Regions from separate parts of the Homo sapiens genome. Here regions 1 and 2 are each linked to region 3. Evidence: fine-mapped expression QTL. A gene starts in region 3. Each other region holds a variant in brackets. All regions are shown on one strand. Distances are between the middles of the regions. Region 1 overlaps NCAPG2 (non-SMC condensin II complex subunit G2). Region 2 overlaps ESYT2 (extended synaptotagmin 2). Region 3 holds the start of NCAPG2 (non-SMC condensin II complex subunit G2).

Region 1 (4,241 bases), 21 kb after region 3:
TCCATGTTTATGCACTCTGTCAAAATAAAGCCAAATAATGAAAATCTATTTGATGGGCAATCCAGTCACTTGCTAAGATGTGTGGTTTGTGGGAGGTAGGACTGTGCTCTTTCAGCTGGGAGGGAGCTCTGACCCTGATCTTTCCAGCCATGTGCTCACTGGGCATTTGGAACGTGGCCAGTCTGAATCAAGATGTGTTGTAAGTGTAAGAAACATACCAGATTTCAAAGACTTCATATGGAAATGAGAATATAAAATATCTCAGTACTTTTTAAAAATGTTGAGTGAATGTTGAAATGTTAGTGGTTTGGATGTATTAGGCGAAATGTGGTAGTTGGCCCTTTGTGGGTTTCGCATCCATGGATTCAATCAACCAAGGATCGAAAATATTTGGGAAAAAAATGCATTGTACTTAACATGTACAGACTTTTTTTTCCTTGTCATCAGTCCCTACACATATAGTGTCACAACTATTTCCATAACATTGACACTGTATTAAGTATTATAAGTAATCTAGAGATGATTTAAAGTGTGCAGGAGTGCATAGGTTATATGCAGATACTACTCCACTTTATATGAGGAATTTGAGCATCCGCAGATTCTGGTCTCTGAGGGAGGTCCTAGAACTGATCCCCCATGGATACCAAGGGATGACTGTGTAATATTGAAGTAATTTTACCTGTTTCTTTTGTCTGTTTTTAATGCAGCCACTAGAAAATTTAAAATTGCATCTGTGGCTTGCATTCAGTTTCTATTGGATAGTGCCGTTCAGGGACTTCAAGTCACCTCTTTTAGTTACATTATTTTTGAGAATTTGAAGATATTTTCTTTGATTATGGGTAACTCTGGTGAATACATAGTATTTATGTTATGAAGATAGGGCTATGTAATCCACAATCCCAACTCAACATCCAGATACCCTTTTGGACAAAAAAGTGTGTTTGTTTTCCCTTATATTTTTCTTATACCAGGTTCTCAATCATTTTATTTTTCTCTGAGAATAAAATTTTTACTCTAGGTCAGAAAGGAGCCTCTCACAACCCTGTGTTCTATCCTGACTTTTCATTCCTCTTTGGAGAGCAGGCCCTGCACTGATGGGCAGAGGGAGGAACCTGCAGAGTGGACAGAGGCTGCCCCATGTCTGGGTTTACTTCCATCCTCTCTGCTCCTCTGCACAACTTACACTTGATTTGTATTGCCAAGGTTTATCACTGACTTCTAGAAAATAAAAAATAGGCTGGGCGTGGTAGCTCACGCCTGTAATCCCAGCACTTTGGGAGGCCGAGGAGGGTGGATCACCTGAGGTCAGGAGTTTGAGACCAGCCTGGCCAACATGGCGAGACCCTGTCTCTACAGAAAAATAAACAAAATAAAAACTATTTGACTAGATGTATACAAAATTGGTATCAACAATGTGTATTTCTCAGTCTCACTCCATTCCTCTCTGCCCTCCCTCTCTTTAAGTTTTTCAGGCAAATTCCAGACCTGACATTTCATTTCTACATACTACTTTATTCATCTCTCAAAAATGTGCTTATGGAATGCCATTGTAAGACCTAAAAATGTGACAGTAAATCCTTGGTATTTTTAAAAATAATCAAGCCACATTAAAATTTTTCCAGTGATCTCAAATGTCTCCTTAGAGTTTTTTTGAATTAGGACTCAACAAGTTGCCCACATGGCATTTGCTTGTTATACCATTAAAATCGCTTATTCTAGAGCATTCCTCCCTCCTTTCCTTTTCTTAAAATCT[A/T]TGCCATTGGCATGTGAGGAAACTGGACCAGTTGTCCTGTAGAATGTTGGCATACTGATAGTTAGCTCTAAAGGTTTGGATTCAACTTTTATGGTACAAATAACTTCCCAGGTAGTGCTGTGTATCTCATCTTTCATTGCAAGTCAGACAATGTGTGGTTGTCCCACATTAAGTGATGCTAAGTGACTTCAGGTGAAGGAAATATTTTCAAATATAATGGGGAAGAGGAACTTGAGCATCTGCAGACTCTGGTTTGTATTAGTATTAACCCTAGGAGCGTTTCCTTAGGTCCTTCCTCAAAGCCACAGAAATCCTGCTCATGTGTGAGGGTGGGCACAGAGTACAGGTACAGACATAGGGTCCACTGGGGTTTTTTGCTACTCTTAGAGGCTAGGCCTTTTCCCAGTTGCTGCACTCTGAGTACCATTAGTGCATGGGGCTGATGAAGGGCTTCCCACACACCTTCCTTGCTCAGCCCTTGTCAACAGTGGCCCTGAAATATCTTATTTACAGTTTCCGCCGTAGAGGTAGTTCTGTTTTTGTTCTGTGGAGGCTGTTGGAACAAATCCAGTCTTCTGAAGGTTGTCCAGGTCAGTGATGAGTCAGAAGAGGGGGCTCCACACTCACCATGCACTCAGTCTCTGAAATTTGTCTGATTTGAACTAGCCTTGAGTGGTAGGTGGAATCTTACATTGCCATTTGGCACAGATTTGATATTTCATCAAATAAAAGAGAAGCAAAGCATTCTCCTTGCTATAAGAAAACCAAAGGGATTCTAAGAAGCATGGACTTAAAATAAGAAAGCTTGGACAAAAGGGTCCAGGTTTTTTTCTCATGAAATATAAGATGGACAGGTCAGACTCTTTGTACTCAAATGCCGCACTGCTTGTCAGGTCGTCAGTAGGACACACACACACCAAGTGCTTTGCATTGCATTTGTTATTTCAGGCGATTGAAAATGATTGCATCCAGGACTTCATGTTCCACGGGATACACCTTCCGAGGAGGTCTCCAGTGCATTCCAAAGTGCGGGAGGTAAGATTGTGAACAGATTGTTTTTGAAATAATGTTTCCTCTGTTTTGTTTTTAGATAATTGTTTTGGTTAAATTTTAAAATTAAGCTTTCACAGACATCAGTTAGGGGGATTTCTCAGAACCTTGATATTTGATGTCTGGCAGTTTTATTCCTGCCACCAAAGTTTTAATGAGGAAAGCAAAGGTGTATTGTTGAGATGGTTAGTATTGTATTTGAATGACCTTAAATTCAATTCTCTGTCTTGAGATTTTCCAGAATTATTGGTTTCTAATGGCCACTATCATTTTTTTCAAAGATCCTAGAGGGTATTTGAAATTATTTTTATTATTTTACTTATTAAATTCCAATTTTGCTCTTCTGCAAACCAAATGAATAAATGTTTTGATTGTTTCTTTTGATATTTTGTTCTGTAAAGGTAATCTCAGAATTTAGATTAATCTCAGAATTTAGATATGAACTTTACCTTTATATTAATAATTGTAAATGGACTGACTAGATAAGATTCTATCATCAGTGCCATTACTACACTGATAGGTGTTTGATGGATCTTAAGGATCCTGGCAGGAGGAATGGGAAAATCTGGTCTGCTGTGTTTATTTAAATTAAGCAGCTGCTGTTGATCAGTGTTCTAACCCATGGGATGCCTTGTTTGCTTGCTGTTAGTTTTGGCAACCATATGTCAAGAAACCAAGTGAATAAAGACTACTCATTTCTTTGTTTTGTTGTAGAGTGAAACTACTGCTATTTATAGAATGTAAATATACTAATTATATTAATTTTGAGTGGATAAGAAAATGTTTCTTTGCATTATTGATGATTTAATTTCAGTTACACAAGGATAAAGAACCCAGAGATTTATCTAGACTACTGAGTTTTCCAGAGGATTTAAAAATCGTGATTGCATATATTTAGGATAAATATATTCAATGAACTCCCTGTCCTACCCACCCCCCACCCCCATCCCAGTGTGGCTTTATTTAGTTGTAGTCAGTTTGGGTTATTTATTTCACATAGATGAGTTGGTGTTTCAAATTTTATTTAGTAGAATTGCATTAAACTATGTATTTATGTAAACTATGTTTATGTAAACTATATGTGTAGTTTATATGTAAACTATGTATGTTTTCATATGTTATTTTTGCTGTGGTAGTCTGAGTAATTAAGATATTATAAGTATAGATATCACTATTTGGTAAATTTATGGAAAAATGCACAAAAAGAATTTAAAGGGAGAATATTAGATTTCACTCAAGTGAAACGTGTTACTCAACTCCAAGTAATTGTTTTTGTCACAACTTATAACACATTATAGTTTCTTCCTCAAATTGTTTTTATTTGATAACTATTAAATTTATCTGATAAGTCATTTTATTGATATTGAAAGAGGTTTCAGGCAGTGCTTCAGACATCATTTGAAATTAAAAATCTCAACATTGTTGATGAAAATGTTCT
Region 2 (4,241 bases), 41 kb before region 3:
TATTTCTTCTAGATTCGATACAAAACCAATGAACCTGTGTGGGAGGAAAACTTCACTTTCTTCATTCACAATCCCAAGCGCCAGGACCTTGAAGTTGAGGTATTTTATTTGCATTTTTTAACCAATTTATTGACAAATAATTGACTTTTTAAAGTATACAATTTGCTGAGTTGTGACCCGTGTATACACCTGGGGATCCATCGCCAGAATCAGGACAATTGGTAGATCTCTCTGTAACCCGGGCCTCCCCTAGCCCCAGGCAAACACAGACCTGCCTTTGGTCACTGTAGATTACTGTTCACATTTTCCAGGATTTTATACAAATAGAATTATGCGGTATGTCCTCTAGTTGTCTATATTCTCTGGTGATAATTATTCTGAGGTTTACCTGTGTTGTTGCAGATACCCACAGTTTGTCTTTTTTTATTGTTGAGTAGTAGTTATGGATATACCACAATTTGCTCATCCATTTACCTGTGAGTAAGACATTGATAAAAGATTGGGTTCTTTCCGGTTTAGACCTATTACATATAAATCTGCTGTGAATATCACATACAAGACTGTGTGTACATATGCCTTCATTCTGTTGGGTAAAATGCCCAGGAGCAGGTTGCCAGGTTCATGTTTAGCTTCTTAATAAACTGCCAAATTGTTTTCCAAAGAGATTGTGCCGTGTCACATTCCCACCGAAGTGCATGTGAGTCGAGCGGGCCCCACATCTCGCCAGTGCTGTGGTGTTAGTGGGTAGATAGGAGTATTACCGGGTGGTTTCAGCGTCATTACTAATGACGTTGAGCACCTTTTTATGCTTTTTTACGGTCTTTGTATCTTCTATGGTGAAATGTCTATTCAGTTTTTTTGCCTGTCTTTTTTATTTGGTTATTTGTCTTCTTAATACTGAGTTTGTAAGACGTTTGGGGTTTTTTTTTTAATGTTTCATTCTTTCTGAGATGAAGTCTCACTCTGTCATGGAGGCTGGAGTGCAGTGGTGCGATCTCAGTCACTGCAGCCTCCACCTCCTGGGTTCAAGTGATTCTCTTGCCTCAGCCTCCTGAGAGCTGGGATTACAGGTGCGCGCCACCACACCTGGCTGATTTCTTGTATTTTTAGTGGAGACGGGGTTTCACCATGTTGGCCAGGCTTGGCCTTGAACTCCTGACCTCAGCTGATCCGCCCACTGTGGCCTCCCAACGTGCTGGGATTACAGGCGTGAGCCAACGCACCCCGCCTCTTTGTTTTTGAGAACAGAGTTTCACTCTGTTACCCAGGCTGGAGTGCAGTGGTGTAATCACAGATCACTGCAGCCTCCAACTCCTGGGTTCAAGTGATTCTCTTGCCTCAGCCTCCGGAGTAGCTGGGACTACAGGCAGACACCACCATGCCTGGCTAATTTTTTTATTTTTTGTAGAGAATTATTTTATTTTTTGTAGGGTCTCACAGTGTTGCCCAGACTGGTCGCAGACTCCTGGGCTCGAGCAGCGATGTTCCCACTTCTGCTTCCCCAAGTGCTGGGATTGCAGTTGTGAGCCACGGTGCCCAGCCTCTTTTTCTTAATATGGCTGTGTAGTTGTTCAGCATTTGTGCAGTTGTTCAGTCTTTGTTGAAAAGATTATTATTTGCCCTAATTTATTAGCTTAGCAACTTTCCAGAAATTCAGTTGCCCATATGTATAGGTCTGTTTCTGGAATTCCTTCTGTTCCATTGTTCTATATGTCTGTCTTTATGCCAGTATCACACTGTCTTTATTATTGGTGCTTTATTAATCTTTTTTTTTTTTTTTCTTGAGGCAGGGTCTCACTTTGTCACTCAGGCTGGAGTGCAGTGGTGCAGTCATGGCTCACTGCAGCCTTGACCTCTTAGGCTCAAGCAATCCTCCCGCCTCAGCCTCCCAAGTGGCTGGGACTAGAGGTGCACACCACCACACCCAGCTAATTTTTGTGTTTTGGGTATGTGTGTATGTGTGCCTCAGCCTCCCAAGTGGCTGGGACTACATGTGCATGCCACCATACCCAGCTAATTTTTGTGTGTTGGAGGGGCGTGTGTGTGTGTGTGTGTGTGTGTGTCTATTTATGTATGTAAAGATGCGGTTTCACCACATTGCCCAGGCTGGTCTCGAACTCCTGAGCTCAAGCCATCTATCCACCTTGGCCTCTCAAAGTGCTGGGATTACAGACGTGAGCCATCATGCCTGGCCTGTCTTCTCTCTTCTTCTTCCTAATAAGTCTTACAAGATGTTTATTGATTTTATTTTCTTAACC[A/G]ATTTTTTGTTTAATTGTCATTATTGCTTTTCTTTTACTATTTCATTGATTTCTACTATGATCATTATTATTTCAGTCCCACTTACTTTGGGTCTTTGCTTCTCTTTTTCTAGTTTCTTAAAGAAGAAGCTTGAGACATTTCTGTTTTTATAATGTAGGCATTTACTCCAATAAATTTCACTTTAAATTCTGTAGCTACATCTCACAAATTTTGACTTGTCGTTGATGTCTCCTTTTGATTATTATTATTTCCTTAATTTCCCTTTCAGTTTTTTCCTTTGACCTGTGTATGGGTTATTTTGGTCTGTTATTTAGTTTCCATATGTTTGGGGATTTTTTTTTAATCTTTCTATTATTGATTCCAATTTCATTCCATAGTGGTCAGAGTACATACTTTGTATGACATGAGCCCTTTTATGTTTGAGACCGGCTTTATGGCCCAGAGCACTGCCTGTCCTGGGACACACTCCACGTGCACCTGTAGGCTGTGTGCCTTTCTGGTGTTGGCGAGTGTCTCATGAATGTCAGTAGGTCAGGGTGGTTGGTGGCATTGCCATTGCTCAGGCCCTCTGGGGCCTTACTAGTTCTCAGACTACTTATATCAGGTATGAAGAGCATGGCGTTTAAATCTCTGAATTTATGTTTTTTTCCTCAGCCTCTGTTTTTGCTACTTGTATCTTGAACCTCTCTTGATAGGTGTGTGTGAACAGCCAGGCCTAGGAGACCTGGTCATGCCGCTTGCCCGACCCTGTCTCATTAGATAGGTGAGTGTGAACAGCCGGGCCTAGGAGACCTGGTCATGCCGCTTGCCTGACCCTGTCTCATTAGATAGGTGAGTGTGAACAGCCGGGCCTAGGAGACCTGGTCATGCCGCTTGCCTGACCCTGTCTCATTATTCTGTGTTGGTTGTTTTATTAGGTTGGTGCAAAAGTAATTGGAGTTTTTGCCATTGAAACTGCAATTACTTTTGCCCCAATCTGATACTTTTTTACATTCTGTTTTATACAAAAGGATTTGTGTTTTGTCTAGCTGGTTTTTCCTTCATAAAGTGCACTTCTGTATTCTCAAAATAATCTATGCTTACTGGACCTTGGATTTTAAAAATAATTTTTAAAGTTCCACAAACATTGTCATAGTTATTTCATTTAAAACTGCTTTTGTGATTATAGTTTAGTTTGAAAAGAAATATGCAATCAACCTTTTAGGTTTTCCTGAGTAGTTATGTGTTAATTTCTCTGACCATTTTTGTATAGCCTGAGAAACCTTCAGAGTTCTTACTCTATTTGATTAAATTATTTTATATTACAGCCATCTAACAGGAATAATTCCTGTTGCAGAGATAATGCAGAAGGTTATTATACAGGAAAAAGAGGCTGGGCATGGTGGCTCACACCTGTAATCTCAGTACTTTGGGAGGCTGAGATGAGAGGATCACTTGAGGCCAAGAGTTTGAGAACAGCCTGGGCAACATAGTGAGATCCACCTCTGTTTTTTAAAAAATTTTTAAATGCCTTGCTGTAAATTTTCTTTAATGTGGATTTTGAATGGAGAAGGCTTAAAAGGTACTTAGAAATGTATTGTCTCCATAAATGTCATGAATGGAAACTGTATACATCGTTATGAGTGTGTATTGCCACCATTTTCCCAGGGGTTAAAAGACAGGTAGACTATTGCCTATTAACCCAGGGTTCTCCGAACCGATTGGTCATTATTGTCATTACTGCTTTTCTCATTTGTCATTATTACATCATTTCTTTCTGTGCTCATTGTAATCTATAATGACGAAATAGCAGATCTTTTGCTTGTTAACAGTGTTTTGTGTCTTTGTTAGGAGATTTCATACCATGTTAATCATTATGGAAACACTACTTAAGAGAATATGGCTGAAATATGTTTGGGTTTTTAAAAATATCTTTCTTACAGACTAATATTGTCTGTGGACCTTTCTACATTTGTTTGTTTGTTTTTGAAACAGTTTTGTCA
Region 3 (4,241 bases):
GCCAGGGCTGTGACACAGTGTAACCCCCCTTTGGGGCTCTGTGGCTCCTGGCATCTGTGAGCTTTCGGGTGCCACCATGTTCCCCTTGTCCAGATGCTGATGCCTGCAGTGGAAGCCACTTGTGGTACCTCTGGTCCAGCCACAGCCTTGCATGGAGCCGGCAGCTGTGCAGGCACCTAGAGCTGCCTGCTCCACCACAGCAGCTGCATGGCTGGGTGTGCGCAGTGGTTGGACCCCATGCTCGCTTGCTCACATACCCCTTGCCGCTCTGCACCTGGCTCACCCTTGGCAGGCGTGGGATCTGGGTTGGTAGTGCAAGCCGAGTGCAACCTGCTGGGCTGAGTGGGCTCGAGCAAAACTCTAGCAGAGGCACCGCTGGCCACGGAGGTTTCTAGCTGGTGAAGCGATACCCAAAGGATCCTATGACATTAGTGGCTGCATGGGCAGGTGCATTGGGGGTGCACTGGGCGCTCCTGCTGCCCTGCTTCCACGTGCCTCTGAGCACTGCACTACATAGACATTTAGGCCTCATAACAACCCCCTAGAGGAGGCTGAGCTCTGCATTATACAGACATTTAGGCCTCATAACAACCCCCTAGAGGAGGCTCAGTACTTAAGTAGGTCCCATTTGATAGATGAGGAAACTGAGGCTCAGTCGTCCATGGCTTGTCAAAGGTCACCAGCTAGTGAGCACAGAACCAGGTTAGCCCAGGTGGTACAGCTTCAGAGCTCACATGCGTAACTTGTTACATTATTCCTACTCAGGAAGTGGAAACCCCAGGAACAGATGGCTGATTGGAGGAGGGACCAGCATAAGGAAAGGGGCAGGATTCAGGGGTGGGAGGGGAAGTCGATATCTGTTTTGGATGCATGTCAGCACCAGCGTGGGAGTAGGCAGTGAGCTGTTGAAAATTCTGGAGTTCAGAAATAACCGTGTCTTGCAAATCCAGATGCAGAGGTCACTGCTTGAAGGTGGCAGTTTGCACCTTGGATATGAAGGAAATTGCTAAGAAGAAAGCAGTGAGAAGATGAGGGCACCAAAATTCAAGAAATGGCAGGGAAGGATCTGTGTATGGAGGGAGGAGGAGGTCAGAGGTGGCTGGAGCCCCAGGATGAAATAGGCAATGTTAGATATCGGCCACCTGTTGACAAGGGTCCCAGACTCAGCATCCTCTGAGTGGGTCTTCTCCCTCCCCTCTGCAGCCTGCCTTGCTTCACTGTTGCAAGCTTCCTAGTAAACCAGTCTTCTCCCTGCTATAATTTTATATTGCTTGTTGAAACGATATTCCAACAAGTAACATAAATATTTTTGATATACTAGGCTAAATAAAACATATTTAAAAATTAATGTCACCTATTTATCTTCATTTTTCTAATGTGGTCACTAGAAATTTACAAGTGCACTTGTGGCTCCCATGATGTTCCTATTGGTTGGTGCTGTGCTCCCACAGTGCAACGACTTCAATCTCGCCAAGACCTCTGGCTTGAGTTAAGCCAGGAAAACAGATACCACTCTAGACATCTCAAGCATGAAAGAATATAGCTCCAGGGAAGGCCAAGTCCTCACGAAGGGATGCAGAGCTCGGTGGTAAAGAGCACCGTTTTCTAAGAATTTGCTTTCAACAAAAATTGGGAACGCCCAATCAAGTTATTCGCTGACACAAATTAAAAGAGATTGATACATCAGTATGTGATTTTGGCATTTAAGTCCAAAGAATTGAATGACATTGCTACTCCTCCTTCACACGGGTGCCTCCGAGGGTCCCCGCTAAGGCCTCTCCCTCTCCACCCTATGGGCAGCTGACCTGCCGGGGGCCTCACCTGCTGGAGGAGCAACTGCAGGAGAAGCACCTGTTAGGGGCCGCACCTGGCCGGAGGGGCTCCTGCGGGGGAAGCACCTGCCCAGGGTGCACCTACCGTGTGCAGGCTGCGGACCACCCGGACAGGTGCCCCCTCGGCAGGGAGGGCGGTCACGGGGGCCGGCCAGGTCGGGGTGGGGTCCTCCCGGGGATCCAGACACGGCCCTGTGGCCTCTCCCCGCCCCAAGCCTTTCCTTTCTCTCCCCCTCTCTCTCTTCCTCTCCTTCCTCCTTCCCACAACACCGCCCGCTCGCAGCGCCCCGCCCTCTCCTGGACCGCGCACTCCCTCCGCGGAGGCCCCAGGACGCGCACGAGCGCGCAGTGGACGTCGGCGCGCGGACCGGGCATGGGTTCCCCAGCTGTGGCGCCCCGCGTGCGCGTTCCGTAGTGCCCGGTAGGGCACTGGGCTTAGCTGCTCGAGGCCGCGCCCTAAGAGGCGGGGCATAGACAGGAAGAAGACTGGCGGGCATGTGGGCGGGGCATGATCTGGAGGCGGGGCGGGCCGGGCGTGTGGGCGAGGCCCGAGGCTCGCGGCGCCCCAGCTCTCGCGAGAGCGGCGCCTGATGACGACCGGGAGGGCGGGGCCCGTCTGGGGCGCCGGCGGGTGCGTTTGAATCTGGTCCGAGCGCGGGAAACGGCGGGTCCCCGAGCCCAGGTAAGAGCTGCGGTGCCGAGCCGGGATTGGGTTCAGAGCAGGGGCTGGGAAGTAGCAGGGATCGGGCGGGAAGCCCCTCCTCGGCTGGTCGGGGTCCCAGCCTCCCCTCCCCTAAGGAGGCGGCCGACCTGCGTGCGGGCAGTGCTGCCTCTGACGGAACTGGACGGAACTGGCGACCCCGGGCCATCCCCCCTACCCAGCTCAGCGACGCCCGTCCTTCTTGTCCGTGTCGGAGGAAAATCCCAGCCCCGGGCGCGGGCACTGCCCTCAGAGAGCGACCCCCCAGCCCTGAGCATGGGCACCGTCCTCAGAGAGTGTCCCCTCAGTCCTGGGCATGGGCACTGCCCTCAGAGAGCGACCTCCTCTGTCCTGGGCATGGGAACTGCCCTCAGAGAGTGTCCCCTCAGTCCTGGGCATGGGCACTACCCTCAGAGAGCGACCCCCTCAGTCCTGAGCATGGGCACTGCCCTCAGAGAGCGTCCCCTCAGTCCTGGGCATGGGCACTACCCTCAGAGAGCGACCCCCTCAGTCCTGAGCATGGGCACTGCCCTCAGAGAGCGACCCCCTCAGTCCTGGGCATGGGCACTGCCCTCAGAGAGCGTCCCCTCAGTCCTGGGCATGGGCACTACCCTCAGAGAGCGACCCCCTCAGTCCTGAGCATGGGCACTGCCCTCAGAGAGCGTCCCCTCAGTCCTGGGCATGGGCACTGCCCTCAGAGAGCGACCCCCTCTGTCCTGGGCATGGGAACTGCCCTCAGAGAGAGTCCCCTCAGTCCTGGGTGTCGGTACTGCCCTTAGAGAGAGTCCCCCTGAGCCCTGGGTGTAGGCACTGCCCTCAGAGAGTATCTCCCCAGCTGTGGACGTGGGCATTGTCCTCAGAGACATCAGTCTCCTGAACTCTTGTTGCTGGTTTGGTGCCTCTTGTTGTGTCCATGAGGAAGGAGTTTGGGGACGGAGTGGGAAGTCACAGGTGGTGAGAAGGTAACAGGGATTTCTTCTTTTTAATGCTCATCTTGATTTAGTACCAGACCTCCTGTGCGAAGAGTAACCTGCTCTTCGGACTGATAACTGGATGGTGAGATGACTCCTTACCTTGAAAGTAGCATTCTGGCTGCAGGGCTGAGGTCTTATGCACATATGGTACAAGAAACATGGAATATTGCCACTTTGGGAGATAGATTGAAAAATTAACCATTAAAAAATTACAGTCACTAATATAAGAGGGAAAATGGGAAATATAGGAATAAGTTTGGTAGTCTAGAGGAAGTGTATTACTGTAAGTTGGACTAACATGCCAAAGAGGTACACTTGGAAATAGAGCAAACAAGAAAAGTGACCAGAACTATGAAAAAGTGGAGAGTGTTCACAGACTTGCCGGGCGAAGATGTATGATTCCATGTGTTTGCTGCACCTTATTGGATTATTTTTCTAAAATCATGAATTTGTCCTAGCCACTATTCATTATGCTTGTTACTGGCCACTCTCCCTTCCCTCCCCATTTTCTTTGTCAGTGAAAAATGTGCCAGTCATGCTTGATTTAAAGAGGGAGACACGTTGTCGTTAGGCAATTTCATCATTGCATGAACATCACAGAGTGGACTTGCCTACACCTAGAGGTGTAGCCTACACACATAGGCTGTATGGTGTAGCCTACTGCTCCTAGAATGTTACTGTACTGAATACTGTAGGCAACTGTAATACAATGGCAAGTATTTGCATCGCTAAACA

Evidence for each region. PIP is the estimated chance that this variant, and not a neighbour inherited with it, causes the effect. A credible set is the group of variants that fine-mapping cannot tell apart.
Region 1: its variant is the best candidate, but not a certain one, in a credible set for the expression of NCAPG2 in whole blood (TOPMed, PIP 0.76).
Region 2: its variant is the best candidate, but not a certain one, in a credible set for the expression of NCAPG2 in whole blood (TOPMed, PIP 0.62).

Annotation. Positions count from the first base shown.
Region 1 is chr7:158,681,847-158,686,087 of GRCh38, reverse strand. It overlaps NCAPG2 (non-SMC condensin II complex subunit G2), which reads left to right. Exons shown (of 28, transcript NM_017760.7): 9 at 2,702-2,788. Among named protein-coding and RNA genes, the nearest start is that of NCAPG2, 21 kb to the left of the region's middle. The variant A/T (reference allele first, on the strand shown) is at 1,754.
Region 2 is chr7:158,744,052-158,748,292 of GRCh38, reverse strand. ESYT2 (extended synaptotagmin 2) reads left to right here. Exons shown (of 23, transcript NM_001367773.1): 16 at 13-99. Among named protein-coding and RNA genes, the nearest start is that of NCAPG2, 41 kb to the right of the region's middle. The variant A/G (reference allele first, on the strand shown) is at 2,259.
Region 3 is chr7:158,702,997-158,707,237 of GRCh38, reverse strand. NCAPG2 (non-SMC condensin II complex subunit G2) reads left to right here and starts at 2,434. Exons shown (of 28, transcript NM_017760.7): 1 at 2,434-2,514. RefSeq lists silencers at 1,778-2,057, 2,178-2,267, 2,418-2,517 and an enhancer at 3,095-3,673.